Linked DNA regions of Homo sapiens: region 1 is linked to region 2. The links come from fine-mapping of genetic effects on gene expression. Tissue or cell type: blood mononuclear cells. Region 2 holds a variant in brackets; the other region holds the start of a gene. All regions are shown on one strand. Distances are from middle to middle.

Region 1 (13,717 bases), 21 kb after region 2:
AAGAAACCCTGTACCCATTAAGCAGTCATTCTCCTTTTTCCCCCTCTCTGGACCCTGGCAACCACTAATCTGCTTTCTATCTCTATGGATTTGACTATTTTGGACATTTCATATAGGGTCAGCCTGGGTGACAGGGTCTCACTTTGTCACCCAGGCTGGAGTAGAGTGATGAAATCACAGCTCACTGCAGCCTCGAACTCCTGGGCTCAAGTGATCCTTCCACCTTAGCCTCCTGAGTAACTGAGACTACAGGCACACACCACCATGCCCGGCTAATTTTATTTATTATTATTATTATTTTGTATAGCTGGGGTGTCACTATGTTACCTAGGCTGGTCTTGAACTCCTGGGCTCCTGCGATCCTCCTGCCTTGGCCTCCCAACGTGCTGGGATTACAGGCATGAGCCACAGGGCCTGGCCTCATTCCTTTGCATTTGGATACCCAGCTGTCTTAGCACCATTTGTTGAAAAGACTATGCTTCCCCCATTTAATGGTCTTAGCACACTTGTTGAAAATCAATTGACTATAGATGTATAGGTTTATTTTTGTACTCTTGACTCTATTCAATTGATCGATAAACTTCTTTATTGTAGCTTTGCAGTAAGTTTTGAAATCAGGACATGCGAATCTTTCAACTTTATTTTTCTTTTTGAATATTGTTTTGACTATTCAGGGTCTCTTGCGATTCCATATGAGGTGTGGGATAAACTTGTCCATTTCTGCAAAAAATGCAGCTCAGATTTTGAAAGACTTGTATTGAATCTGTTGAGCAATTTGGAGAGTGTTGCTGTCTTAACAATTAAGTCTTCTAATCCATGGACATGGAATGTGTTTCCATTTATTTATGTCTTCCTTGATTTCTTTCAACAAGGTTTGGTACTTTTCAGAGGACAAGCCTTTCCTTTCCGTGGTTAAATTTATTGCTAAATGTTTTATTATTTTTGATGCTATTGTAAATGGAAATGATTCTTAATATCATTTTCATATTGCTCGTTGCTAATGTACAGAAATACAACTGATTTTTGTGTGTTGATATTGTTGAACTTTGCTGAACTCATTTTAGTTCTAATAGCTTTCTGTGTATTCTTTAGGTTTTTCTCTATATGAGATCATGTCATCTACAAATAGAAATAGTTTTACCTCTGCTTTTCCAATCTGGATGCCTTTTATTTATTTTTCTTGCTTAATTGCCCTGGCAAGAACTTTCAGTACAATGTTGATTGGAAGTGATGAGAGTAGGCATCCTTATCTTATTCCTGATCTTAGGGGGAAAGCTTTCGGCCTTTGTCTTCACCATTAAGTGTGATGTTAGCTGTGGGTTTTGCACAGATGCCTTTTACCAGGTTGAGAAGTTCTCTCCTCTTCCTAGTTGGCTGAGTGTTTCAGGTTTTGTTTTTTTGTTTGTTTGTTTTTTGTTTAATCAGGAGAGAATGTTGGATGAACTCTTTTTTACAACTAAAAATCAGCGAAGTCCTCTGTATTTAATTTGGTATAATTATGTGAGACCAAGTTTCATAATTAAGGTTTTATTTCATAATTTTTTTGATTTTTTGGGACAGAGTTTCACTCTTGTTGCCCAGACTGGAGTGTGATGGTGTGATCTCGGCTCACCGCAACCTCCGCCTCCCAGGTTCAAGCAATTCTCCTGCCTCAGCCTCCCGAGTAGCTGGGATTACAGGCATGCACCACCACGCCTGGCTAATTTTGTATTTTTAGTAGAGATGGGGTTTCTCCATGTTGAGGCTGGTCTCAAACTCCTGTCGTCAGGTGATCCGCCCATCTCGGCCTCCCAAAGTGCTGGGATTACAGGCGTGAGCCACCGTGCCCGGCCTCATTTCATAATTAATGTTTTCAAAGAAGGTTACAAATATATGGCTGGGTATCTTTAACCATGTGACTTTAGTCAATTCCTACTTCTTTGGGCCTCAGTTTCCTCAACTGTAAAATGGAGGTGGATAGTAATGCTTACTTCATGGGGCTTAGAGGGATGATGGAGATAAGATGGGATTTTTGTGTGCAAAGGCACTTTGCAAATAAAAACTATTCTTCTGTTGCTGCTCTTATTAGAGATACTTTGTGTGTGTATTTTTGTTGTTGTTGTTCGTTTCTTTTTTGAGACAGGGTCTCCCTCTGTTGCCCAGGCTGGAGTGCATTGGCGTCATCATAGCTCACTGTAGCTTTGAACTCCTGGGCCCAAGCAATTTTTCCACCTCAGCTTCCCAAGTAGCCCAGACTACAGGCTTGCACCACCATGCCTGGCTAATTTTTAAATTTTTTTCTAGAGAAGAGATCTCACTATGTTGCCCAGGATGGTGTTGAACTGTGGCCTCAAGCAATCCTCCCACCTTGGTTTCCCAAAGTGCTGAGATTACAGGCATGAGCTGCCATGCCCAGCTAGAGATGTTATTTATTTATTTATTTATTTATTTACTTATTTACTTATTTTTGAGATGGAGTCTTGCTATGTCGCCCCGGCTGGAGTGCAGTGGCATGATCTCGGCTCACTGCAACCTCCACTTCCTGGGTTCAAGTGATTCTCCTGCCTCAGCCTCCTGAGTGGCTGGGATTACAGGTGTGCACCACCATGCTTGGCTCATTTTCGCATTTTTTAAGTAGACTTGGGGTTTCACCATGTTGGCCAGGCTGGTCTCGAACTCCTGAGCTCAAGTGATCCATCCACCTCGGCCTCTCAAAGTGCTAGGATTACAGGCATGAGCCACCATGCCCAGCCTGGAGATGTTGTTTTAAATTGTAATATAACATGTTTAATAAAGTACATAAGATACATAAAGGGCAATCGTCTTAAGTATAAAAACTGATTAATTTGTATACAGCCATGTGAACACCTCTGGATCCTGCTATTGAACCTGTTAGCACCTTGTAAGGGTCCTCTTCCTGGTCTGTACCTCCCTGGAGGTAACCATTATTCTGATTCCTAACACCATGGATTAGTTTTGCCTGTTTTTGAGCTTCGTATATATGGAGTCATACAAGCTTTTGTATCTGGTTTCTTTCACTCAGCATAATATCTGTGAGTCATCCAAATTCTTGCATGTATCAGTGGCTCATTCTTTTTCACACAGTTTTGAATAAGTTAATACGAGTTGGTCAAAGTTTGAAAAGGCTGTGCATTTGTCTGAGAGACCAGAAAAATACAGGCCAGCAAAGCCCAGGGCTCTCCAGTATTGAGCCAGTCCACTCTGTGAATCTCTATTTATGGCAGCTGAATTCTCAGCCAGGATGGCAGCTACTTTGCCCATGTGTCACCACTTCCCATCCCATACCCTGGGTAGACATCACAAATCCATCTTGAGCACTTTTTTTTCTTTTTTTGAGACAGTGTCTCACTCTGTCACTCAGGCTGGAGGGCAGTTGCATGTTCACAGCTCACTGCAGCCTCAACCTCCTGGGCTCAAGTGATCCTCCTGCCTCAGCCTCTCGAATAACTGGGACCATAGGTGTGTGCCACCATGCCCAGGTAATTTTTAATTATTTCTTGAGACTGAGTGTCCCTATGTCGCCCAGGCTGGTCTCAAACTCCTGGGTTCAAGCAATCTTCCCATCTTGGCCTCCCAAAGTGCTGAGATTACAGGTGTGAGTCGCCATGCCGGGCCAATCTTGGCACTTTTTTTTACAAGAACTTCTGATGCAGCCTCAAAATTCTTTTCAACCCAGCGGTCCAGGTGGCCAACACTAATTGCTTGTAGTTGGTACTTGATATAGTTTGGCTGTGTCCCCACTCAAATCTCATCTTGAATTATATCTCCCATAATTCCCATTGTTGTGGGAGGGACCTGGTACGAGATAATTAAATCATGGCAGCGGTTTCTCCCATACTGTTCTTGTGGTAGTGAATAAGTGTCATGAGATCTGGTGGTTTTATAAGGAGAAACCCCTTTCTCTTGGCTCTCATTCTCTCTTTGCCCGTTGCTATCCATGTAAGACGGGACTTACTCTTCCTTGACTTCTGCCATGATTGTGAGGCTTCCCCTGCCATATGGAACTATAAGTCCAATTAAACCTCTTTCTTTTTGTAGATTGCCCAGTCTTGGGTATGCCTTTATCAGAAGCATGAAAACAGACTAATACAGTACTCAAGATTAAATCTGAGGCTTCTGCTGTCATATCCCCAAGATATTTTTCTGGGCTCCCAGAGTTAGAACATGAGGGGCTCTGTTATCACCCTCAGTTTACCACACAGCTGTATGAAACTGATGGTGGTGAGGTCCACAGCATCTTCCTGTTCATATATCCTTTGGGTAATGGCTCCAACCCAGCAAGTGTTTTGCTACCTATGTACCTGGGAGCAACTTGACTTAGATAAGAGGTGATGAGGCAGACTGCTTAGATGTGGAGGGGCTGCTGCACCCATGAGGTGGCTTGACTGAAGCCTCTTTGTTTTTCTCTTTTACTTTGCTAAAACATTGCAGTGTCTCAATTACGGAACAAACACAAATGTGACTTAATGTTTAACAATACTCCTGTGAATTCTTGACAGTTCTAGCATGTCTCTCACATTTGAAAAACTTATTCCAACCACAAAATTGGGTGAAATGAACTCTACCATCCTCTGGGAATGGCTGCCTGTATGTGCAGGGTTGGAGGTTGTGGCTGATTAAAACAACAACAACATCCAACTCATGGCTTTTGTCCAAATGTAAATCATAGTCTGAGGGAGGAGATAAGACTCACATATAAACTAATAGAGGAAAAGTCCAGCTAAGCTCTCATTTATTTGAAACTCTGATCCTGAGCAACTTCACATATTTGAAAAGTACAGGAAGGAATAAAAAATACCTTTGAGAAGCTGTATTTTTCTTCATGGGAGAGCATTTCAGCTCCTCATTTAGAATTGGTTTATTCTTTGTTTTTGTTTTTGTTTTTTTTTTGAGACGGAGTCTCGCTCTGTCACCCAGGCTGTAGTGCGGTGGCGAGATCTCGGCTCACTGCAAGCTCCGCCTCCTGGGTTCAGGCCATTCTCCTGCCTCAGCCTCCCGAGTAGCTGGGACTACAGGAGCCTGCAACCACGCCCGGCTAATTTTTTTGTATTTTTAGTAGAGACGGGGTTTCACTGTGTTAGCCAGGACGGTCTCGATCTCCTGACCTCGTGATCCGCCCATCTCGGCCTCCCAAAGTGCTGGGATTACAGGCGTGAGCCACCGCGCCGGCTATTCTTTGTTTTCATGCAAGGTTAACACATGCAAAAGATTGGAAGCAGCAAATTAGAATGGTAGGCTTGGGGCAACTACTGGCTACTAACAGCAGCCTCACTGCTAATGGATGGAGAAGTGATTTTTTCCCCCTTTTTATCCACCACTAAGAGTCTAGAGAAGTGATGCTTGACACCAAAGACAATGGAAAAACAATGAAATGTGGTACCACAATTAGCTGCGTCTGTTTATTGCAGAGGCAAAAAAGTCCTCAACGCTTCTGCCACTTTTGAAAGTTCTGAGTCTGGTTCAATTCTTATTGCCTATAAAGATGACAGAATACCTAAGAATAAAATACACATTTTTGAGCATCCGCTAGGTGCCAAGTCTATGCTCAGCAAGTACTTTACATTCTATATCTCACATAAGCTTCAGGTGGTCCTGTTACGATCATCTCCAGTTTATACTTGCAGGAAGGGAGGCACAGAAAGTAGGGGAAATAACTTGCCCAAGTAAGTAGTCAAGGCTGGGTTTTGAACCTTTGCTATCAAAGTTCAGTGCCAAGGCCCTTAGCTTCTGCTAGGTTTCAAAGGATCTGTTAGGTGAATGAAGAGTAGAAAGGCATTCCAGGTAGAGGGAAGAACATTTGCAAAGACAGGTCTAGTCAGTCAGTCACTTGATTTCTCTGAATCTTGGTTTACTCCCCTATAAAATAGGAACAGTATTATCTGTCCTAGGCTGCTTATGATAATTAAATGTGTTTTTTTTTCTTTTTTTTTGGAGACCAAGTCTTGCTCTGTCACCCAGGCTGGAGTGCAGTGGCGCAATCTCAGCTCACTGCAAACTCTGCCTCTGGGGTTCAAGTGATTCTCCTGCCTCAGCCTCCCAAGTCACTGGGATTACAGGCACGTACCACCATGCCTGGCTAATTTTTGTATTTTTAGTAGAGACGGGGTTTCACCATGTTGGCCAGGCTGGTCTCGAACTCCTGACCTCATGATCCATCTGCCTTGGCCTCCCAAAGTGCTGGGATTACAGGCGTGAGCCACTGCCCCCGGCCAAATGTGATATTATATGTACAGCACTTTGCACAATGCCAGAATGTGCATCGATGGTGCAATCACAGAATGTGCATCAATGTTAATTATTGTTGTTTTTCAAATACAATAGTTCTCCTTTATCCTCAGGTGTACCTGCAAGTGGATGCCTGAAAACATAAATAGTACTGAACTTTATATATACTGTGTTTTTTCTATATATATACATCTATGATAAAGTTTAATTTATAAATTAGGCACAGTAAGAGATTAATAACAACTATTAATAAAATGGGACAATTATAACAATATACTGTATTCAGTTTTGTGAATGTGGTCTCTCTCTCAAAATGTCTTACTGTACTGTATTCACCCTTCTTCTTGAGATTATGCGTGATGTCAAAATCCCTATGTGATGAGATGAAGTAAGGTGAATGACACAGGCATTATGAGGTAGTGTTAGGCTACTACTGACCATCTGAGATGTCAGGAGGACCATCTGCTTTGGGTGATCCTGGATCATTGAGCTATGACGATGTCAGTGGTTGGATATCAGGATCAGACGATGTCAACCAATGATTGGGGGTCCTTGGATAATTGCGTTTTTGCCAAAAACTTTTGGAAGAACATTATTACTGGAAGTTGTCTCTTTCTTTCTTTTTCTGAGATAGCATCTCAGTCTGTTGCCCAGGTTTCAGTGCAGTGGTGTGATCATGGCTCACTGCAGCCTCAACCTCCTGGGCTCAGGTGATCCTCCCACCTCAGCCTCCTGAGTAGCTGGGACTGCAGGTGTGCGCCACCACACCCAGCTAGTTTTTTGCATTTTTTGTAGAGATGAGGTTTCACCATGTTGCCCAGGCTGGTCTCAAACCTGTGAGCTCGAGTGACCCGCCTACCTCAGCATCCCAAAGTGCTGAGATTACAAGCGTGAGCCGCTGCACCTGGCCATCTCTTTCTATTTAATTCTTTTTTTTTTTTTTTTTTTTGAGACAGAGTCTCTGTCGCCCAGGCTGGAGTGCAGTGGCGCAATCTCGGCTCACTGCAACCTCTGCCTCTTGGGTTCAAGCAATTCTTCTGCCTTAGCCTCCCAAGTAGCTAGGATTACAGGTGCACGCCACCATGCCTGGTGAATTTTTGTATTTTTAGTAGAGACAGGATTTCACCACGATGGCCGGGCTGGTCTCAAACTCCGGGCCTCAAGTGATCTGCCCACCTCGGCCTCCCAAAGTCCTAGGATTACAGGTGTTAGCCACTATGCCTGGCCTCTTTCTTTTTAATTCATAGAAGTGTGGCTGCAGAAGTTGTAATCCTTTGGTGACCACACGAGTGGTTTTAATGCTGTGTTCTATCTGAGGATTGAATTCCATAATTTTGTCCTTTAATGTCTGTGCAATTTGAAACACTCGGCAAATTTTGATAACACCCATATTGCTGGTTCTGTTTCTGTTTCTCCTTCATTTTCCTCTTTCTTTGTAGATGACTTGACAAGTTCTTCCAATTCCACATTTGTTAACACTTCCCAGTGGCCTTCAATATGATCTTCCACTTCTTCATCAAGCATGTCCCCAAATCCTTCTCCACCAACTTGTCTTGCTGTAGCCTCTCCAGTAATATTTATTTATTTATTTGTGACAGGGTCTCACTCTGTCACCCAGGCTCGAGTGCAGTGGTGAGATCACAGCTCACTGCAGTTTCAAACTCCCAGGCTCAGATGATCTTCATGGCTCAGTCTCCTGAGCAGCTGGGACTATAGGCCTGTGCCATCATGCCCAGCTAAATTTTGTATTTTTTGTAGGGATGGGGTTTCGCCATGTTGCCCAGGCTGGCCTCAACTCCTGGGCTCAAGCGATCCACCTGCCTTGGTCTCCCAAAATGCTGGAATTACAGGCGTGAGTCACCGCACCCAACCTCCAGTAACTTTTTTTTTTTTTTTTGACACGGAGCCTCGCTCTGTTGCCCAGGCTGGAGTGCAGTGGTGCCATCTCGGCTCACTGCCAGCTCTGCCTCCCGGGTTCACGCCATTCTCCTGCCTCAGCCTCCTGAGTAGCTGGGACTACAGGCGCGTGCCACCATGCCTGGCTAATTTTTTTGTATTTTTAGTAGAGATGGAGTTTCACCGTGTTAGCCAGGATGATCTTGATCTCCTGACCTCGTGATCCGCCCGCCTCGGCCTCCCAAAGTCCTGGGATTACAGGCATGAGCCACCGCGCCCGGCCTTTTTTTTTTTTTTTTTTTTGACACGGAGTCTCTCTCTGTCGCCCAGGCTGGAGTGCAGTGGCGCAATCTCGGCTCACTGCAAGCTCTGCCTCCTGGGTTCACGCCATTCTCCTGCCTCAGCCTCCAGAGTAGCTGGGACTACAGGCACCCGCCGCCACCATGCCAGGCTAATTTTTTGTATTTTTAGTAGAGACGGGGTTTCACCTTGTTAGCCAGGATGGTCTCGATCTCCTGACCTCGTGATCCGCCCGCCTTGGCCTCCCAAAGTGCTGGGATTACAGGCGTGAGCCACCGCGCCCGGCTCCAGTAATTTTTTTTTTCTTTTTGAGACAGAATTTTGCTCTTTTCGCCCAGGCTGGAGTGCAATAGCACGATTTCAGTTTACTGCAACCTCTGCCTCTCAGGTTCAAGTGATTCTCCTGCCTCAGCCTCCCAAGTAGCTGGGATTACAGGCGTGCGCCACCACGCCCAGCTAATTTTTTTATTTTTATTTTTTATTTTTAGTAGAGATGGGGTTTCACCACGTTGGCCAGGCTGGTCTCAAACTCCTGACCTCAGGTGATCCATCCGCCTAGGCCTGCCAGAGTGCTGAGATTACAGGTGTGAGCCACTGTGCCCAGCCCATCCAGTAATTTTTATATTTTGCAGTCTAAACCTATTCCTAAGTCAGTGCAACCATCCATTACTTTCAGTAAGTGGCTTGGTGCCACTGGTTTTAGGAGATTCCTTGCTGAAGCCTTTATACAGGCTCAATGCTTTCTGGGGGGTAACAGGTTGCTGTCAGTTGGAACACATTTTTTGTTCGTGTCTTCCACGTATAAGCTTAATGCTTTTTCTTTTCTTTTGTAAAAAAATTTATTTTCTTTTTTTCCCCTGTAAGTAAGGATACAACTTAATGCCTTTTCTATCTTAACTAAGCACTTATCACACACTGTGGCTGTAACTTTTGCAGTTTGAGGTACGACAGCAAAACCAGCATGAATTTCTTTTTCCTCTTTCACAATTCTAGGGCTAGAAGATTCGTTCTTACTGCAGACCTCAGTAAGCTCAGCATACGATTTTTTTTCTTAAGCTCAGAACTTCCACATTTACATTTAAAGGAAGCACTTTACAGCTTCATTTTGGCATATCCAAACTGCCAGCATTACTACTCTTGCACTTTGGGGCCATTATATAGTAAAATGAGGGTTACTCGAACCAAAGCACTGCAACACCGTGGCAGTCCATCTGATAACTCCTAAGCTGGTAAGTAACTAACAGATGGTAGAGGTATGTTGGACAAAGGGATGATTCACATTGCAGGTAGGATGGAACAGGATAGCACGAGATTTCATTAGGCCAATGGAAATTAAAAACTTATGAACTGTTTATTTCTGGAATTTTCTATTTAATACTGTCAGACCTTAGCTGGCCAAGTGAAACTACTCAAAGTAAAATCTCAGATAAGGGGGACACTACCGTACTTAACTGGAGAAGATACTGCTTTGCTTCTGTGACCACAGAATTGACAGGTTGAAATTGGAAACAACTGTTGCCTTCACGCTTTTAAGACAACTTCACATGAATATACATGTGAAGTTCAAGCATGGCAGTATCCCATACTAGCAATAAATTTTTGAGCAGTGTTGCACACTTACTGTCATTTCTCTTACTGTTCTGCCACTCCTACAGAGCGCAGGCCAAGGAGACTACATTTCCCAGAATGCCACACGCCCTTTGACCCCAGCTACAGCAAAAGACGCGCCGGGGAGCGCCTGAAGCCGGAAGACTATAGCTTCCCGGCATGCAGCACGCTTCCCCCTATTAGATTTGAGGCGCGGCCGGCGCGTTGCCCACTGGGAGTTGTAGTCAGTGGCGCGTTGCCCTGACGCCTGCCGGGCCGGGCGTGGGGGCCTGTGGGAGGTGGCGCGGCCGGGCCCAGCTGCGGGGCGGAGGCGGAGGCGGAGGAGAGGCCTGCGGCGGCAGGGAGCGGCGGGACTGGGAGCGGGCGCCGGAGCCGACCCGAGCCGAGCCGAGCCGAGCCGAGCCGGAGCGGGCGGCGAAGGCCGGCGCGGCGAGCAGCAACCATGTCGGTGTTCGGGAAGCTGTTCGGGGCTGGAGGGGGTAAGGCCGGCAAGGGCGGCCCGACCCCCCAGGAGGCCATCCAGCGGCTGCGGGACACGGAAGAGATGTTAAGCAAGAAACAGGAGTTCCTGGAGAAGAAAATCGAGCAGGAGCTGACGGCCGCCAAGAAGCACGGCACCAAAAACAAGCGCGGTGAGGCTGCCCGGCCCCTTCAGACTTGCCACGGGCTCCCCCCAGGCTCCCCGGGCCCGGACTTCACCTTCATCAGACTCGCCTCGGGGTCTGGTCTGACCCTGGAACTCTCCGGGTCAGACTTCTTGCCGGGTCTGGGACCCCCTCCCCGACTCCCTTCAATGTCTCCCCGATCCCTGGACTTTTCCATCGTCAGACTTATTCTGCCCTCTCCCCTCAGCCTCTCTCCACCCCGCCAGGTCCCTTCAGACCCCAATCTCACAGCACTTTCCTCCGCCCTCACTCTGTCCCTTTCTCTTCCGCCTTTTCCTTCTCGCCTCACCCACCTGCCTAGCTACTGCCCCTGCCTCCTCCTCGGCTCATTTCTGCCCCCATCCTAGCATTTCTGTGCTTCCTGGTCCTACCTGTGCCCTCTCCCGACTCCTCGGTGGAATCTGTGAGCTGCCCCTTGGCCTCTCCCCTGTCCTCTTGTCTCAGAATTCTCGTTGAAAAGCCTCCTTGCTGGAGAGAAAAGGGGACTGGGGGAGATGAGACCCCCGATTCCTGCTCTATTCACTTGCTGAGTGAACTTGAGCAAGTTGCTTTCCCTTTGAGGCCTCAGTTTCCCCATCCGTCAGCCAGAGTTCGGCCTCTGTTGAGGCCTAAGGTGTTTTCCAGCGTTGTGATTCACTTTTTGTTGCCTCGTAGCTTGACCTTACCAAAGTTTCCCGTGGCGCAAGCCTTCACCCCATGACTCACCGCTTCCCCATCCGTCTGAACCAGAAATAGAGACTCCCGACTGCTCCCCAGTCCCCACTACTAGGATTCAGGGCCCCAGTATTGAATCTTGAGGCACTGCTTACTTTACTTCCTGTTGTCGTATGGCTTTCTGGGCATTCCAAGTGCTTTGTGTTTTTCTTAAGTGAGATGAATGTGAAAATGCTTTAAAACTGTAAAGCAGTTTAGAAATGTTTGCTTTTTCTTGTTATGGCCATGTGAGAGTGAATCACAGAACGACATCCCTTCCCCTTGAGAGGGGTTTAGGATTGAGGTAATTCACTCAGAAGTCTGCTAGTGACTAGCAGTGCGACCTTGAGCTCATTTACCTTTCTGAAAGGAAAATCATGGATTTACAGTGCTCAGCACATAGTAGGGGCTAAATCGATGTTTTCTCCATTCTAATAGGAGAACAAAATAGCCTATCTGGAGGATGCTTCTCTGCTGATAGTCAACAGATATTCTGGAAATTCTTTTTAGTGCCTGCTGCATGCGCTGTATTCATAGGGGTGAACAAAACACGGCCTCAACCCTAATGGGAGAGAAGACAGAAACAGGAAAATAAATGAAGAAAATATTGTCCGGGGGTGATAAGTACTAAACACACAAAAAGATGGTCTGATAGGGAGTGGTGGAGTGGGAGGGATGCCACTTTGGATAGAATGGTCAGGGAAGGCGTCTTTGAAAAGGTAAAGTTTGAACTGAGTCTGGAGAAGGAACCAGCTCTGTAAAAAAAAAAAAAAAAGGGGGAGGAGCCTTCTGGGCGTGGAAAGCAGCATGGGAAAAGGCTCGGAGGTTAGCAGGTTGTAAGAAACCGAAGAGAGAGACCCTTGTGTCCAGAATGTAGTGCTTGGAGGGAGAGTGGTATGGAATAAAGGGGGCGGGGCTTGGACTTTGAACCTGTTGGTGAAGAGTTTGAATTTTATTCCAAGTGGATGGAAAGTTTTTGGAGAGTATTTTGTTGGAACGTGTCCTTATTGACAGAGTTTTTAAAACATCATCTGGCTGCTCTTTGGAGAGTGGGTGGGGGATGCGGGTGGGAGCAGGGAGAACAGTGAGGAGGCAGCTGCAGTGGTCCATTTGTGGCTTGGACTCCAGCTTAGTTGTGGAGATGGGAACAGGGTTATATTTTGCTGTCTCTAGCTTTTTCCTCTGATGACTCTCCCTCAGTCCAGATCCTCTGTTTATGGTCATCAGAATCAGTGTTTTTAGCTTTCTGCATTTTGGAATGCAGGAGGAGGGTGTCAGTTTACCATTTTCCTCTGATCTTTTGGTCTGGAGCTAGCTTAGTTTCTGGAGTTTGTTTTTTTGTTTGTTTGTTTGTTTGTTTGTTTTTGAAACGGAGTCTCGCTCTGTTGCCCAGGCTGGAGTGCAGTGGTGCGATCTCAGCTCACTGCAACCTCTGCCTTCTGGGTTCAAATGATTCTCCTGCGTCAGCCTCCTGAGTAGCTGGGATTACAGGTGCACGCCACCATGCCTGGCTAATTTTTGTATTTTTAGTAGAGATGGGGTTTCACCATGTTGGTCAGGCTGGTCTTGAACACCTGACCTCATGATCTGCCTGCCTCGGCCTCCCAAAGTGCTGGGATTATGGGCATGAGCCATCGCACCCAGCCGTTTCTGCAGTTTTGGCGATCGAATTGACTTTCAAGGGGCTGCAGGAGAGCTCGCCAGCCAACTGTGGAGGACCAATCTCAGTTGTCAGACTTGCTGAAGGCAGGCTGTCTCCCTGAGTTTGCTTGAGAGGATGGGAGCTACTGTAACCTACCCTTCTTTTTAGCATCCTCTAGGAGGAAGGTCTTAGTGTGGGGAGGTGAACACTACCACATTACCATTCAGTTAGTCTGCTTATTCACCTGCCACTATGCTGGGACCTTGAGAGTCAGAGATGAAAATACACTGTGTCAGCCCTTCAGGAACTCAGAATTGGAAGTGTGGGGTGGGAGTGTATGTGCGTGTGAGAGAGCAGGAAATGATTATAACAGTGCAGAAACATGAGTGTGTACATGGGCTGAGGCTGCAGAGGAGGCGGCACCTGTTTGGGGGGAAGGATAAAGAAGACTTGGCAGAGGAAGGAGAACGTGAGGTGGGTCAGCAAGGAGTTGGGTGTGTTTGGGAGGCAGTGACAGTGTCGCCTCTGGAGTCTGTGGGTGGGACAGGAGATAACACTGAGAGTGGCCTGTAGTCTTTGGACCTTGACCTGGAAGTAGTGAGGAGCCCTTAGCTGTCCTTTATTTTTATTTATTCATTCACTTTAAGCAACAGGGTCTTGCTCTGACATCCAGGCCGAAGTGCAGTGG
Region 2 (15,850 bases):
GGGGCTCCCCTGGGCCCTTCGCAGGTGCAGCCTGCCTGGGGTTTCCCACAGGCAGTACTCTACACAGCCTGCCTTTTGGTTTTTGCTTTGAATTGTTCACCTACCTGTGACATTCCTCACTGATAACTCATTGTAAATAGGTCAATATGCTGGCAAATGTTTTCTTTTTTCTTTTCTTTTTTTGTCTGATAATACCCTTTCTTCCTTAGCTGGCACATGTTTTCATGATGGGGAGATGGTGGTGTCTTTTCTCCCTTCAGAGTGGTTGGTGGCCTGAGACTGCTGTTGTGAGGACATGTTTATGAGCTGTTTGGCACAGTTGTGTTTTTTGACTCTGTATTAGGCCATTCTTGCACTGCTATAAAGAAATACCTGAGACTGGGTAATTTATAAGAAAAGAGGCTTATTTGACTCACGGTTCAGCAGGCTGTACAGGAAGCATAGTGTCTGAGCTAGCAGATCTGCCACTGGGGAGGCCTCAGGAGGCTTTTACTCATGGCAGGAGGAGAAGGGGAAGTAGACATGTCACATGGCCAGAGCAGGAGCCAGATAGAGAGAGAGGGAGGCGCCATACACTTTTAAACAGCTAGATCTCATGAGAACTCACTCACTATCCTGAGGACTGCACCAAGGGGATGGTCCTAAACCATTCATGAGAAATCCACCCCCATGATCCAATCACCTCCCACCAGAACTCACCTCCAGCACTGGGGATTATAGTTCAACATGAGATTTAGGTGGGGACACAGATACAAACTATGTCAGACTCTGTGACAATCTCCCTTTTTTTTTTTTTTTTTTTTGAGATGGAGTCTCACTGTGTCGCCCAGGCTGGAGTGCAGTAGCGTGATCTCAGCTCACTGCATCCTGCATCTCCCAGGTTCAAGTGATTCTCCTGCCTCAGCCTCCTGAGTAGCTGGGGTTACAGGCAGGTGCCACCACGCCTGGCTAATGTTTGTATTTTTAGTAGAGACAGGGTTTCACCGTATTGGCCAGGCTGGTCTTGAACTCCTGACCTCAGGTGATCTGCCCACCTCAGCCTCCCAAAGTGCTGGGATTACAGGCATGAGGCACTGCATCCAGCCATGTGACAATTGTAAGAATGAGTGACAGGCAGGTCTGTTTGGGACTCACACCCCATATTTTGAATGAGGAGGCCCAGCAGGTCAGAAATGGGAAGGCGCTGGGCTTGGATCCCCATCTGTCTGACTCTTTAATGTAACAAGTTCTCACTGGTGCTGGGAGCAGCTTGTGAATGGGCAAGATGTGGTATCTGGAACAGGGACCACTTGCTAGTGGAGGAGACAGACAATAACCAAGTAAGCAAATAATAAATAATTCCAGGTAAGAAGTGGTAAGAAGAAAATAAAACTGAGTGATGTAATAGGGAGTGACTGGGAGTGCATCGTGGGGGGCAACTTGAGACAGGGTGGCCAGGAGGGCCTCTTTGGGGAGGTGACATTTGAGCTGAGATATGAAGGATGAGAAGGCACTGCCTGGGGAAGACTTGGGGAAGAGTGTTCCGGGGAACAGGAACAGCCAGTGCCAAGGCCCTGAGGTGGGAATGAGCCTGGTGTGTTCAAGGTAGGTCAAGGAGGCCAGGGTGGCCAGAGCAGAGTGAGTGAGGTGGAGAAAGGAGAAGGATGAGGTCTGAGAGGTGGGAGTGGGTCAGACCACAGGGCCTTGTAGGCCAAGGTGGGAGGTGGGTTAAGCAATGGTGTGGCATGGTCTGACTTACTTTTTTTTTTTGTTTCTTTTTTGAGACAGAGTCTCACTCTGCCGCCCAGGCTGGAGTGCAGTGGTGCGATCTCGGCTCACTGCAACCTCCGCCTCCTGGGTTTAAGTGATTCTCCTGACTCAGTCTCCTGAGTAGCTGGGATTACAGGTCCACGCTACCACGCCTGGCTAATTTTTGTATTTTTAGTAGAGAGACGGGGTTTCATCATGTTGGCCAGGCTGGTCTCAAACTCCTGACCTCAGGTGATGCGCCTGCCTCGGCCTCCCGAAGTACTGGGATTACAGGTGTGAGTCACCACACCAGGCCTTTTTTTTTTTTTCTTATTTAAATAGAGACAGGTTCTCTTTCTGTTACCCAGGCTGGAGTGTAGTGGCATAATCATGGCTCACTGTAACTTCAAAACCCCTGGGCTTAAGCGATCCTCCTGCCTTAGCCTCTTGAGTAGCTGGGAAGCCACCACATCTAGCTAATTTTTAAATTTTTCATAGGGATAGGGGTCTTGCCATGTTGCCCAGGCTGATTTTGAACTCCTGGTCTCAAACAATCCTCTCACCTTGGCCTCCTAAAGTATTGGGATTGCAGGTGTGAGCCAGCCACTGTGCTCAGCCTGTTTCATTTTTAAAGGTGCCCCTGGCCACCCTGTGGAGAATGGACTACAGGAGGCAAGGCAGGGGCAGGGTGGCCAGCGAGGAGGCTACTGCACAAGTCCGAACAAGAGATGATGGCGCTCAGATGAGGACAGGCAGTGGCAATTGAGAAGAGTGGATGGATTTGGAATGAATTAACTGTAGGATGTTGCCTCCTAATGTTGGCCCTGGGGTGGCCGGGGCGCTGCTTCCTATGCCTGCTGTGTTTCCTCCCTCATCTCTCCTGCTCCTTCCACTTAGGTGTGTCAAATGTGTCAACAAATACTCCACCCCTGAGGCCCTGGAGCACCACCTGCAGACCGCCACTCACAACTTCCCCTGCCCACACTGCCAGAAGGTGGGTGCCACTGTCCTCTTTTCTGGGGCCTAGGCTATAATAAGGGCAAGGAGGTGGGGTGGGGTGCACACCTCACCCTTTCCTTCTCCTCTCTCACCATAGGACACGCAGGCAGGGCTCAGGGGCTGCTCCACAGATGACACAGTGTCTCTGCCTGGCCATCTCATCCATCACATTCCAGATGTGGCCATGTCGGGGCTGCTGCTGGAGCCAGGCTGGGTGGGCTGTCCTGGTCCCAGGCCTAGTGTCTGAGCAGAAGCCTCCCAGCTTCCTGATGTAAGATTATCCTTATTACAATTGGCTCTTCTTTTTAATTTTTTTTTTTTTTTGAGACAGGGTCTTACTCTGTCACCAGGCTAGTGTGCAGTGGTTTGATCATGGCTCACCGCAGCCTCAACCTCCTGGGCTCAGCCCCCTGAGTAGCTGGGACTATAGGCATGTGCCACCATGCCCAGCTAATTTTTGTATTTTTTATAGAGATGGAGTTTCACCGTGTTGCCCAGGCTGGTCTCAAACTCCTGGGCTTAAGGGACCTGTCCACCTTGACCTCCCAAAGTGCTGGGATTACACGCATGAGCCACTGCACCCAGCCTAAATTTTTTGTAGAGATAGGGCTCACTATGTTACCCAGGCTGGTCTCAAACTCTTGGCCTCAAGTGATCCTCCCACCTCAGACTCCCAGAGTGTTGGGATTACAGGTATGAGCCATCATGCCCAGCCTGGATTCTTCTTTTCAGTGACTCTGAAAGCCTCACTAAAGCCTGTTCCTGATAACATCAAACATCCAGGAAGTGTTCCAATTTCTAGTTGTCTCAAAGCTTCATCATTTTGTAAAGTTCATTTGAATCAGGTCCATAGATTGCAATTGATTGACATAACAAAAGCCTCTATTAATCTACAGGTCCCCACCACCACCCCTGACCACTGCTCCCTTTTTTCTTTCCTCTGAATTTATTTGTTGAAGAAACTGGGCCATTTGGTTCAGCGGTGTTCCCCGCAGTCTGGATTTTGCTGATTACGTCTCCCTGGTGTGTTTAACTTGCTTCTTCACTCTACTCATTTTCTTACAACCATATGTGGCAGATTTTCCAGGACAGCCCTGGTTTCATTTTGGCCTCATTCTGGATGTTTCTTATTATCTAACCTAATTTTAAGCTTTAGAAGTTGTGGTCCGAGTAAAAGATACCATGAATTGAGCAAGAACCACATGCCAGATGCTGTTCTGAGCATTTCACTGGAATTGACTAGAGGATAGGTGTACTGTTACTATCCCCCTTTATAGGTGGGGAAACCAAGGCAGAAAGGTCACCTAGCTGGGAAACGATGGGGCTAATAAGCAGTGGGGCAGCTGGGTCTGTGCCCGTGACCAACGCTCTACCAAAATGAATGAATGTGTGAATACATGCCCTTCTTTTGCCTGGACTGGAAAGAGATTTTCACTTCTGTGTTTTCTGGCTTTAAAAAAATTACCTTTCATACAAAAATTAGCTGGGTGTGGTGGTGGGCGCCTGTAATCCCAGCACTTCGGGAGGCTGAGGCGGGTGGATCACCTGAGGTCAGGAGTTAGAGACCAGCCTAACCAACATGGAGAAACCCTGTCTCTACTAAAAATAAAAATTAGCCGGGAGTGGTGGCAGGCACCTGTAATCCCAGCTACTCAGGAGGCTGAGGCAGGAGAATCGCTTGAACCTGGGAGGCAGAGGTTGCAGTGAGCCAAGATTGCACCATTGCACTCCAGCCTGGACAATATGAGCGAAACTGCATCTCAAATAAAATAAAATAAAATAAATAAAAGTAAAAAATTACCTTTCCATAGATTTCTTTAGTAATTTGCTCATTTTCCATTAATTCTTTTACTTGTCAGTCATTTGACCCAGGCTCTGTGCTGGGGAGTGAAAGCCCCTCTCTGCCTACTTGGAGCTCCTGTGTAAGCAAAGGGCTGTCATTCAGTGGGTTAAATGCTGACTTAAAAGTGTGGGTGGACATTCAAAGGCAGAATTGGCTTTGCCAGGCATAGCACCAGGGAGCTAGGGAAGGCTTGACAGGAGCAGTGACGCCCGAGTTGGGTCTTGAAGGATGTGTAAGAGTTTGTCAGTAAAGAGAGAAAGGCCCTCTGGGTGGGAAGAACATCCGGGCAAAAGCTCAGGGCAGACATGTTTTGTCCGGGCTTGTGGGGAGCCATGAAGTTCTAAGGGCTGAGTCTGACATTCTGGGTCCTGGCCCCTGATAGCCAGAAAGGAAGGTGTCTCTATAGGGGCTGGAAACGAGGAACCTTTGAGTTCAGAAGATGGCCAGGGGAGGGGGGCCCGGTGAGTCAGACCTGAAGGCCCCTCTTCTCTCCCAGGTGTTTCCTTGTGAACGCTACCTGCGGCGTCATCTGCCCACCCACGGCAGCGGGGGCAGGTTCAAGTGCCAAGTGTGCAAGAAGTTCTTCCGGCGGGAGCATTATCTCAAACTGCATGCTCACATCCACTCGGGTAGGTACCCTGCCCCTGAGAACTCCAGCCCAGCCCCTCCCCTCCCCCTCCCCCTCTCCTCATGCCTTTCTCTCTCTTCCCATCCCCATCTGGCTCTTCTCCCTGTCTCCCTCAGCCCCTTTTCCCTCCACTTCTCCATCTCCCTCCCCATCTCACTCAGTCCCTCCCCTCATCTCTCTCAGCCCCCGTCTCCCTCCTCCTCCCCATCTCCCTCCTCCTCCCCATCTCCTTCCTCCTCCCCATCTCCCTCCAGCACCCTTCTCCCTCCTCTTCCCCATTTCCTTTCCCCTCTCCCTCTCCCTACTCCTCTCCCTCCCCCCTCCCTCCGCCTCCTCACCTCCCTCCCTCTCCCCATCTCCTTCCCCCTCCCCCATCTCCCTCCCTCTCTCCATCTCTCTCCCCCCCATCTCCCTCACCCTCCCCATCTCCCTCTTCTTCCCCATCTCCCTGCAGCCCCCTTCTCCCTCCTCCTTCCCATCTCCCTCTAGCCTCCCTTCCCCTCCCTCTCCCCATCTCCTTCTAGCCCCCTCCAGCCTCCCTCCCCTGTCCTCTCCCCTCTCCCTCCAGCCCCCTCCCCCTCCTCTCTGTCGCTGTCTGTCTCCCTCCAGCCCTCCTGCCTCTCCCCTTGCTCCTCCTTCCTCTCTCCTTCCTGGCCCCTGATCCACCTGCCTTAATTCATGAACAAGGGATTCCCACCACCGCTAAAGCAGAGAAGAGCCCCTGGAGGTTGTGTGGAAGGGACTTTTTATTCTTTTTTTTTTTTTCTTTGAGACAAAGTCTCGCTCTTGTTGCCCAGGCTGGAGTGCGGTGGCAGATCTTGGCTCACTGCAACCTCTGCCTCCCGGGTTCAAGTGATTCTCCTGCCTCAGCCTCCTGAGTAGCTGGGATTACAGGCTCCCACCACCATGTCCAGCTAGTTTTTTGTATTTTTAGTAGAAACAGGGTTTTGCCATGTTGGCCAGGCTGGTTTCGAACTCCTGACCTCAGGTGATCCTCCTGCCTCGGCCTCCCAAAGTGCTGGGATGACAGGCGTGAGGCACTGCACCCAGCCTGTGTGAGGGACTCTTGACTCTGCCCCCTGTGGTGGGGACACTGCTCTCACTGTAAGTTCCCACTCAAACCTGAACAAAACGCCATCTCCTTGGTTCCCCAGTTGAAACACACTGACATTTTCTTTTCTATTAATCTTTAGATTTTTTTATTAGTTAAATTTTTTAATTGCTTTTTAATTGAAAAGGATCTAAAGATTGAGAAAACTTGAGGGAAAATCCTTGACGGGACAAAAGCATATATAAAAAAATAAACTCCCTCTCACTTCAGATGGACAATCCAATGTTTTTCCTTTTTTTTCTTTCCTACGACCTATGGTAAAAAATACATTTCATATTGCAACCCAGGAAGCACACATAGGATGTATTGCAACAAAAGTTTTACAAAACAGTGTTTTCTATTTTGTCCTTTTCAATTTTAGTTTTTTTATTTTTTATTTTTATTTTGAGACAGGGTCTCACTCTGTCACCCAGGCTGGAGTGCAATGGTATGATCTCACTACAACCTCCGCCTCCCAGGTTCAAGCCATTCTCGTGCCTCAGCCTCCCGAGTAGCTGGGATTACAGGCGCCCACCACATGCCTGGCTAATTTCTGTATTTTCAGTAGAGACGGGGTTTCACCATGTTGGCCAAGATGGTCTCAAACTCCTGGCCTCAGGTTACCCACCCACCTTGGCCTCTCAAAGTGCTGGGATTACAGATGCAAGCCACCACACCCAGCCTATTTTTAATTCTTAAAATAACCACCAACAGGGTGTAACTTGTGGTTTGCAGTTTGCAAAATACTCCTAATTCTCTTCCCCAA[A/G]GGTAACTGTTAGCGGTCTAGTCTGCATTCTTCTAGTTTTATTTTACACATATATAAAACGCTTGCTTACGTTTGCAAAAATGAGCACATACTATAACTTATGTGCCTTTTTTTCCTTATCATATACCTTGGCGATGTTCCCCAAGGAATGTGTGCTTACAGTTCCCCTGGAGGCTAAATTCTGTGGGTCCCCCTCCCCCGGGCCCCCCCCAGAAGTTGTTACCAACAGCACCTTCTTTTTCACATCTGAGTAGTCTTCCTCAATGAATTTTTCATCTTGTATTTAGCCAGTTCTCTATGTATGAACCTTTTTTTTTTTTTTTTTTTTTTTTGAGACTGAATGGCACGATCTTGGTTCACTGCAACCTCTGCCGCCTGAGTTCAAGCAATTCTCCTGCCTTAGCCTTCCAAGTAGCTGGGATTACAGGTGTGCACCATCACGCCCAGCTAATTTTTGTATTTTTAGTAGATATGTGGTTTCACCATGTTGGCCAGGCTGGTCTCGAACTCCTGACCTCAAGTGATCCCCCCGCCCCAGCCTCCCAAAGTGCTGGGATTACAGGCATGAGCCATCACGCCCAGCCTATGTATGAACCGTTAAATTACATTTCAGCTATTAGTTTGTACACACAATGCTGTGTGGGTCCCTTGGCAAGCTTTTGGAAGTGTATCTGTAGTGTATATTCTTAGGAGTGGAAATGCTAGGTTAAAATGCATGTGTAATACTGAGTTTCAGTTTGGGATGATGAAAAAATTCTAGAGACAGATGATGGTGATGGTTGCATGATGGTGCAAATGTACTTATGCCACTGAACTATACACTTAAAAGAAGCTTAAGATGGTCAATTTTCTGTTATGTATATTTCTCCACAATAAAGAAGGGAAAAGAAGTAATGCATTGTAAGTTTGATATTACCAAATTGCTCTTTATGGCTTTTAAAAATTATTATTCAAAAGTAATACATGCTGCCAGGCGCGGTGGCTCATGCCTGTAATCTCAGCACTTTGGAAGGTGAAGGTGGGTGGAGCACCTAGGTCAAGAGTTTGAGACCAGCCTGGCCAACGTGATGAAACCCCGTCTCTACTAAAAATACAAAAATTAGCCGGGTGTGGTGGTACGCACCTGTGATCCCAGCTACTCAGGAGGCTGAGGCAGGAGAATTGCCTGAACCCAGGAGATGGAGGTTGCAGTGAGCCAAGATCAAACCACTGCACTCCAGCCTGGGCAACAGAGCAAGACTCTGTTTCAAAAAAAAAAAAAAAAATACAAAAAACGAAACAAAACAAAACAAAAAAAACCACACAAATAATACATGGTTATTATAAAAATGGAAACAATATAGGAGTACATAAAGTAAAATGTTAAATTTCCCCTTCAAGTTGTAGTTGCCACTGACACTTTGGTCTGTCCTTTCCCTACACCTCCCCATCTTTCTTCCTGCATCTTCAGTTTATTTACAGAGACACATGGCCAGGGCTTTTTTGGGGTGTGCAGGTTGTATTTTTTCTTTCTTTTTTTTTTGTTGGAGCTTACATATCCAGTAGGGATTATATTTTTTTCTAAGAAAGACGAGATTGTGTTAAGCTGTTCTACTGCTTTCTTTCCCCACTAGCAGTATGTCCAGGAGATCTTTCCAGATCAGGAAACACAGATTGACCTTTTTAATCTTTTTAATGACCACAGAGCATTCTATTGTAGGGACCAGCATTTCCGTATCGACTGGGTTGATGGTTTTTCAGAAGTACTTTATTCATTCCAGAGGGAGAACAGAGAGGAAATAATGGCAGGAAGTCACAGCAGCCCAGAAACAGCCCCTTCCAAAGGGCAGGCTGTGACCCCACGGCAACTTTGCAGGCACCTCCCTTGATTTCCTGTGGGTTCCTCAGGTAGCCCATCAGGCAAGAGCTGCCCCAGGACGGGTTTAACAGCAGGAAGATCTGGGTAGCTCAGATGGGCTCTGGATCACGCTGCTGGGCTGGAATCTTAGCTCCCGCAACCATAGGGGTAGCCCCTGAGCCAGTCCCTTCACCTCTCTGAACTTCAGTCTTCTTTCTTATCTGTGAAACAGGGATGATGGGAGTCAGTGCCTCCTGGTTTTTTGGAAGGATTCAGTTAGATAAGGTGTGATTCCTCGTCCCCCAGGGTGGACCGCATTGCCAGAAATGACATGAGGCCACCTTGCTTCTCAGGCCGTGCCTCATCCTTGACTCCTCTCCTCCTCTCACAGTCACAGCCAGTCCAGTGGCAAGGGCTGCCGACTGTGCCTTCCCAACATGGCTGTCCTGGGCCACTTCCTGGTTATCCTCACCTCCACCCTCATTCGAGCTGGTTAAAAGCTTACATCAGAGTCCATCCCTCTGCTGTTCAGACCTTCTGGTGCTTCTCTTCTGGCTCAGAGTAAAAGCCAAAGTCCTGGCTGGGCGCGGTGGCTCATGCCTGTAATCCCAGCACTTTGGGAGGCCAAGGCAGGTGGATCACTTGAGGTCAGGAGTTCGAGACCAGCCTGGCCAACATGGTGAAACCCCCCATCTCTACTAAAAATACAAAAATTAGCTGGGCGTGGTGGCACACACCTGTAATCCCATCTACTCAGGAGGCTGAGGTAGGAGGATTGCTTGAACCCAGAAGGCAGAGGTTGCAGTGACTCACCTGAAATCTTGCCACTGCACTCCAGCCTGGGTGACAGAGCAAGGCTCTGTCTCAAAAAAAATAAATAAATAAAAGCCAAGTCCTTAGCTCTGCCTCCCAGGTCCTCCCATGCGGACCTGGCTGGCTCGCTGCCCTCACCTTCTGCCTTGTTCTCTGGCCACACCAGCCTCCCTGTTGTTCATCAGCACCGCCAAACGCACTCCTGCCTCAGGGCCTTTGTACCTGCTTTCCCTGCTGCCCAGACCATCTCCCTGATGACCTGAGGTCTCTCCTCATGCATGGCCTCATCAGAGAGGCCTCTCCTGACCATCCTGTCAAAATAGCCCTGTCTTGTCTCTGGCAAAACAAAGCCACTGAAGAATGAGAGAGGCTATTTTCTCCCCTGGCCACCTCCCTAGAGGAGCTGCTCCCCTGAGGGGCCCAGCGGGGACCCTTGTGCCCTGGATGCCGACTCCTGGTGAGTGCTGGCTCTCCCTGTCTGTGTCTGCTGCAGGTGAGAAGCCCTACAAATGCTCAGTGTGCGAGTCTGCGTTCAACCGCAAGGACAAACTGAAGAGACACATGTTGATCCACGAGCCCTTCAAGAAATACAAATGCCCTTTCTCGTGAGTAGAGACTGCCATGCAGGGGGGTGGGTAGCGGGACAGATTCTCCAGGGGTGCTGCTGGGGAGGGTGGGACAGATGTCAGGCCTGAGGGCAGGCCTCTCCTTTTTTTTTTTTTTGGAGACATAGTCTCACTCTGTCATCCAGGCTGGAGTGCAGTGGTAAGATCTTGTCTCACTGCAACCTCTGCCTTCTGGGTTCAAGCGATTCTCTTGCCTCGGCTTCCCAAGTAGCTGAGATTACAGATTTAGTAGAGATGGAGTTTCGCCATGTTGCCTAGGCTGGTCTCGAGCTCCTGACCGCAAGTGATCCATCCACCTCGGCCTCCCAAAGTGCTGAGATTACAGGCGTGAGCCACTGTGCCTGGCCAGGCCTCTCTCCTTTTATCCTGTCCTGGGCCCTGCCTGCCTCACTTCCCACCCTACCTCCTTGCCCAGCCCTTAGGGTGGACAAGGCTGTCCCTTGTGCCCAGGGCTAGTGGAGGGGCCAGCAAGAGGATCCTAAGCTTGGTGAGCTCCCCCTGACCAGTGGCTTTGGGTTTTAGGACGCACACAGGCTGCAGTAAGGAGTTCAACCGGCCGGACAAGCTGAAGGCCCACATCCTCTCCCACTCTGGTAAGTGGCTCTTGGGCCTGCTAAGAGGGTCTGGTTCAGCTCTAGTTCACTGGGATAGACCCGCCAGGAAGAGAAAGAGCAGACATATCCTGTGAGGCTTGTTTTCCCTGCCTGGCACATTCCAGCCAGCACTTTCACTTATGTGGGCTATGAGCCAGGCCTGTGTTAGGGACTTAAGGGTGAACAGAGATGAATCAGACACAGTCCCCCAGTCCAAGGAGGAAGCTGACCTGAGCAGAGATGACTCAGTTGGAGCAGTGCCCAGTGTAATAGAGGTGTGGACGAGGTGTGGAGGGAATCAGATTCCAGCCAGGTCCAAGACATGGCCAGGAAGCTTCTTTGATAGGGCAGGGCAGGGGTCTCCAAGCCACTCCTCAGTTTCTCAGCGCCTCCTCAGAGCAGCCTGGCTGGCTTTCCACATGCCAGCCGAGGTCTAAAACAAGGTTCTTCAACCCTGGCACCATTGACAATTTGGGCCAGATAATTTTTTTTTTTTTTTTTTGAGACGGAGCCTCCCTCTGTCACCCAGGTGGAGTGCAGTGGTGTGATCTTGGCTCATTGCAACCTCTGCCTCCCAGGTTCAAGCGATTCTCTTGCCTCAGCTTCCCAAGTAGTTGGGATTACAGGTGCCTGCCACCACACCCAGCTAATTTTTGTATTTTTAGTAGACATGGGGTTTTCACCATGTTGGCTAGGCTGGTGTCGAACTCCTGACCTCAAGTGATCTGCCCGCCTTGGCCTCCCAAGGTGCTGGGATTACAGGTGTGAGCCACCGGCGCCTGGCCTGTAATCCTGTAGATAATTTTGTCCTGGGGGCTGTCCTGTGCCCTGTAGGATTTTTAGCAGTATCCCTGGCTTCTATCTACTGGTGTCAGTGGCATCCCCCCACAGTTGTGACAACCAAAAATGTCTCTAGGCATTGCTGAGTCCTCTGGGGGGTAAAGTCTCCCTTGTTTGAGAAGGTTTACAGAAAGGAGTCAGTCACTAAAGAAAGTGTGAAAACTGGGAGAGTAGGTCAATGACTTGGACACACAGGGCTGGGTTGGAGTCTTAGTGCTGCCATGTTCCTGTGGGTGGCCTCAGGCGTCACGGCCCCTCCCTGAGCCTGAGATGACCTGGCAAAGCGAGCCAAGGTGCAGAGAGTGAGCAGCTGTTCCAGGCAGAGGAGAATGGCAAGTACAAAGGCGCAGAGGGAGGAGCCAGCGTGGCATCTCTGAGGAGAGCGAGTGTGGCTGGCGCAGAGAGTGGCTGGAAGAAGGCAGACGACGAGGGTGGAGAGAGCTGGGGCCAGATCACACAGGTGCTGGTGGGGAAAGAGCCTGGATTTTATTCCCAGCGCAGGGCACTGTTGCGGGGTGAAGGTCTGGATGCTTCTCACTGACTTTCCCTTGCCCTCCAGGCATGAAGCTCCACAAATGCGCCCTGTGCAGCAAGTCCTTCAGCCGCCGTGCCCACCTCGCCGAGCATCAGCGCGCCCACACGGGCAACTACAAGTTCCGCTGTGCTGGCTGCGCCAAGGGCTTTTCCCGCCACAAATACCTCAAAGATCACCGCTGTCGTCTCGGCCCCCAAAAGGACAAGGACCTGCAAACCCGGCGGCCCCCCCAGAGGAGGGCAGCCCCCCGCAGTTGCGGCAGTGGTGGGCGCAAGGTGCTGACCCCCTTGCCTGACCCGCTGGGGCTGGAGGAGCTGAAGGACACAGGGGCTGGGCTGGTGCCCGAGGCTGTCCCCGGCAAGCCGCCCTTCGCAGAGCCGGACGCGGTGCTGTCCATCGTTGTGGGTGGTGCGGTGGGCGCGGAAACTGAGCTGGTGGTACCTGGACACGCTGAGGGGCTGGGCTCCAACCTGGCTCTGGCGGAGCTGCAGGCTGGGGCCGAGGGCCCATGTGCCATGCTCGCTGTGCCCGTCTACATCCAGGCCTCCGAGTGACGGACCTGAGGTGTCTGTTTCCTGGGCAGGCCTGATGCTCCTGTTTGGGTCCAGGGCCCCTGGGGGCAGACCGGTGATCCTTACCAGTGGAAGCGAGCCATCGAGCCATTGGCAGAAATCCTGCTGAATGTCATTCAGAAACCTCAGCCCATGGTCGCCCTCCTGTGCCCCTCTCCTGCCGGAAAGCCCTGCAACATTCTAGGGTTGGGGGCAGGGCCATCCACGGTTTCTGGGCAGAGCCATGGTGGCAGGAGAGAGATGGCTGAAGCCTGAGCAGCCCAGAGTCCCGCTGGTCTAGGCTGGTGGTCGGGGCCCCTGGGAGAGGAGACAGGGCATTCCTCCCCACTCTGTCTCCAGGCTGCCTCTGGGTAGCCTCTAGTCTGCTGTTCTTCAGGAGGCCTGCCATAAACTCTTCGGAGTTTACGTGTTGCACCTTTTCACAGACGGTTCCCCACAGCATCCTCAGACAGCTCTGTGATGTAGCTTTTAGGAGGCACTCAGGTGTCACGGCTAGACTGCAGCTATGAGACAGATCTGGCTTCAAATCCAAGAGTTGCCATGCACTTGCTGTGTGACCTTGGGCAAGTCACTTCACTTCTCTGAGCCCCGTGTTCCTCATCTGTACAATGGGGCTTACGATACTACTACCTCATAGGGTTGTCCTGGGGATCCAGTATGATGAAGTGCGCCAGGGGCTTGGCATGGTGCCCGGCACGCAGAAAGTGCTCAATAAATGTTTTTGTCATAACGTGTCCGGGTGGCCTGGGCCAAGCTGTGGCAGTTTCCTTCTTTGCCCCTAGGTGGCAGCACTCCCCCTCTGAAGCTTGTGGTGGCTGAGGGGTCCCAGGCCCCTCACACAGGGAGCCCTGGAGAGATGATAAGGGAAGCAAGGCTGGGCACGGCAGCTCATGCCTGTAATCCCAGCACTTTGGGAGGCCAAGGTGGGCTGATCACCTGAGATCAGGAGTTTGAGACCAGTCTGGCCAACATGGCAAAACCTCGTCTCTAGTAAAAATACAAAAATTAACCGGGTGTGGTGGTGCACACCTGTATTCCCAGCTACTTGGGAGGCTGAGGCGGGAGAATCACTTGAACCCAGGAGACAGAGGTTGCAGTGAGCTGAGATCGTGCCACTGCACTCCAGTGTGGGAGACAGAGTGAGACCCTGTCTCAAAAAAAAAAAAAAAAAATTAGCTGGGCATGGTGGTGGGTGCCTGCAGTCCCAGATATGCTGGAGGCTAATGTGGGAGGATCACTTGAGCCCAGGAGGTTGAGGCTGCAGTGAGCTGAGATTGTGCCACTGCATTCCAGCCTGGGCAACTGAGCAAGACCCTGTCTCAAAGATTTAAAAAAAAAGAAAAGAAACGAAAAAAAAGAAAGGAAATTGGGAACACCCATCCACAGAAAACAGTCCAGGACAACACCCCATGGGGGTCGGGGTTTGTACTCACTTGTGGGAATTCAGGATAGTTAGCCACCTCCAAATCCGTTGTAAACAAGATCAGAAATCCCTCTCGTGTCGGCATCTGGAGGCCATCAATGTCACCGCGTCCAGTGCTTCCTCCTACCTCTCAGCTGGTCCCGGTGGGAGGTGGACCGGGCTCATGAGGAGGCGGGAAGGAGAAAAGGGCCTTGACTAGTGTTTTCCTGTTTATCTTCACAGCCACCCTTCTGGGCTGTTGGACTCCATTTGATGACTGAATTGTTTTGAAGGCTGGCAGGTCCCTCAGGCATCTGTGTTGGATCTCAGGGCTGGAACTCAGAGCCAGGCCCAGCTTCCCACATCCTCAGGAAGGGTGTGACGCGGCAGGAGGGACAGAGTTGATGGGGGTGAGGTGTGTAAGTGTACCGGCCTGCACAAAGGCCCGAGGGGGACTGGTGGGGACAGGAAGTCAGAGGGGATGCCCCTGGAGCTGGGCCTTGGCCCGGGGTGCTTTGATGGGTGGATGGATAGGGGAAGGTGTGCTGGGTGAGAGCAGGGCGCGTGCAAACACCTTGGGGTGGGACAGTGCCAGGCCTGCTATGTTCTGGGGCCGGCGGATGTTCCAGGGTGACCAGAGGTCTCAGAGGAGTAGGTGGATAATGATCATGGCTGTTGCTTCACCTTCTCCACACGAGGGACACTGTGCCAGGCTATTTACAGTCACGTCGCCTCAGCCTGTCATGTGAGTGCTGTTACTTTCTGTATTTTACAGCTGAGAAAACCCAGGCCCAGAGGGGTAAACTTCCTTACCCAAGCTCACACAGCCAGGAAAGCTGCAGAGCTGGGACTCAAGCCACGGCAGCCTGCCTCCATGGGTTCTTAGCCACTTTCCACGATTGAAGTGTGGGTTGATGAATCAGAGAGGGCCTTAGATGTGGGTTAAGGAATCTGGACTTTATTCTCCACATAATGAAGGGGAGTCATGGGAGACAGTGAACATTTTTAAAAGTTGTAACAATGGCATTGAAAGAAATGTGAAGAACGACATCTTCAGCCGGGTGTGGTGGCTCACTCCTATAATCCCAGCACTTTGGGAGGCCGAGGCGGGTGGATCACCCGATGTCAGGAGTTTGAGACTATCCTGGCCAACATGGTGAAACCCCATCTCTACTAATAATACAAAAAAATTAGCTGGGCGTGGTGGCACATGCCAGTAATCTCAGCTACTTGGGAGGCTGAGGCAGGAGAATCGCTTGAACCCGGGAGGCAGAGTTTGCAGTGAGCTGAGATCCCGTGACATTGCACTCCAATCTGGGTGACAAGAGTGAAACTCCATCTCAAAAAAAGAAAAAAAAATGACATCTTCTTCCTAATATAACTATTTAAGTGGTTTTTCTATAGCTTCTTCCTGTCAGTGCACACAGGCATACACGTCTACTGGTAATCACGAGAACTAACATTTATTAGTTATCGAATGAATGCCTGGCACCATCCCCAGCACCTCAATGTAGGCACTACTTTTAAGCCCATTTTGCAGCTGAGATGAGGCAACAGGCACATTAAGGTTAAGCAGCC

What was found.
Region 1: it holds the start of CHMP4B, and the variant in region 2 is fine-mapped to the expression of CHMP4B in blood mononuclear cells (TOPMed, PIP above 0.99). The same link has a PIP of 0.9 or more in monocytes and whole blood.

The regions. Positions count from the first base shown.
Region 1 is chr20:33,800,998-33,814,714 of GRCh38, forward strand. It overlaps CHMP4B (charged multivesicular body protein 4B), which reads left to right and starts at 10,351. Exons shown (of 5, transcript NM_176812.5): 1 at 10,351-10,661. The coding sequence starts at 10,472. It overlaps ZNF341-AS1 (ZNF341 antisense RNA 1), which reads right to left and starts at 10,102. Exons shown (of 4, transcript NR_110623.1): 1 at 10,043-10,102. RefSeq lists enhancers at 10,026-10,320, 10,060-10,139, 10,906-11,746, 11,575-11,644 and a silencer at 10,200-10,479.
Region 2 is chr20:33,778,666-33,794,515 of GRCh38, forward strand. It overlaps ZNF341 (zinc finger protein 341), which reads left to right. Exons shown (of 15, transcript NM_001282933.2): 11 at 2,626-2,722; 12 at 5,067-5,199; 13 at 10,198-10,309; 14 at 10,853-10,923; 15 at 12,323-13,604. The coding sequence ends at 12,852. It overlaps ZNF341-AS1 (ZNF341 antisense RNA 1), which reads right to left. Exons shown (of 4, transcript NR_110623.1): 4 at 8,708-9,112. Among named protein-coding and RNA genes, the nearest start is that of ZNF341-AS1, 25 kb to the right of the region's middle. RefSeq lists enhancers at 73-362, 398-692, 13,478-13,772 and a silencer at 7,012-7,061. The variant A/G (reference allele first, on the strand shown) is at 7,055.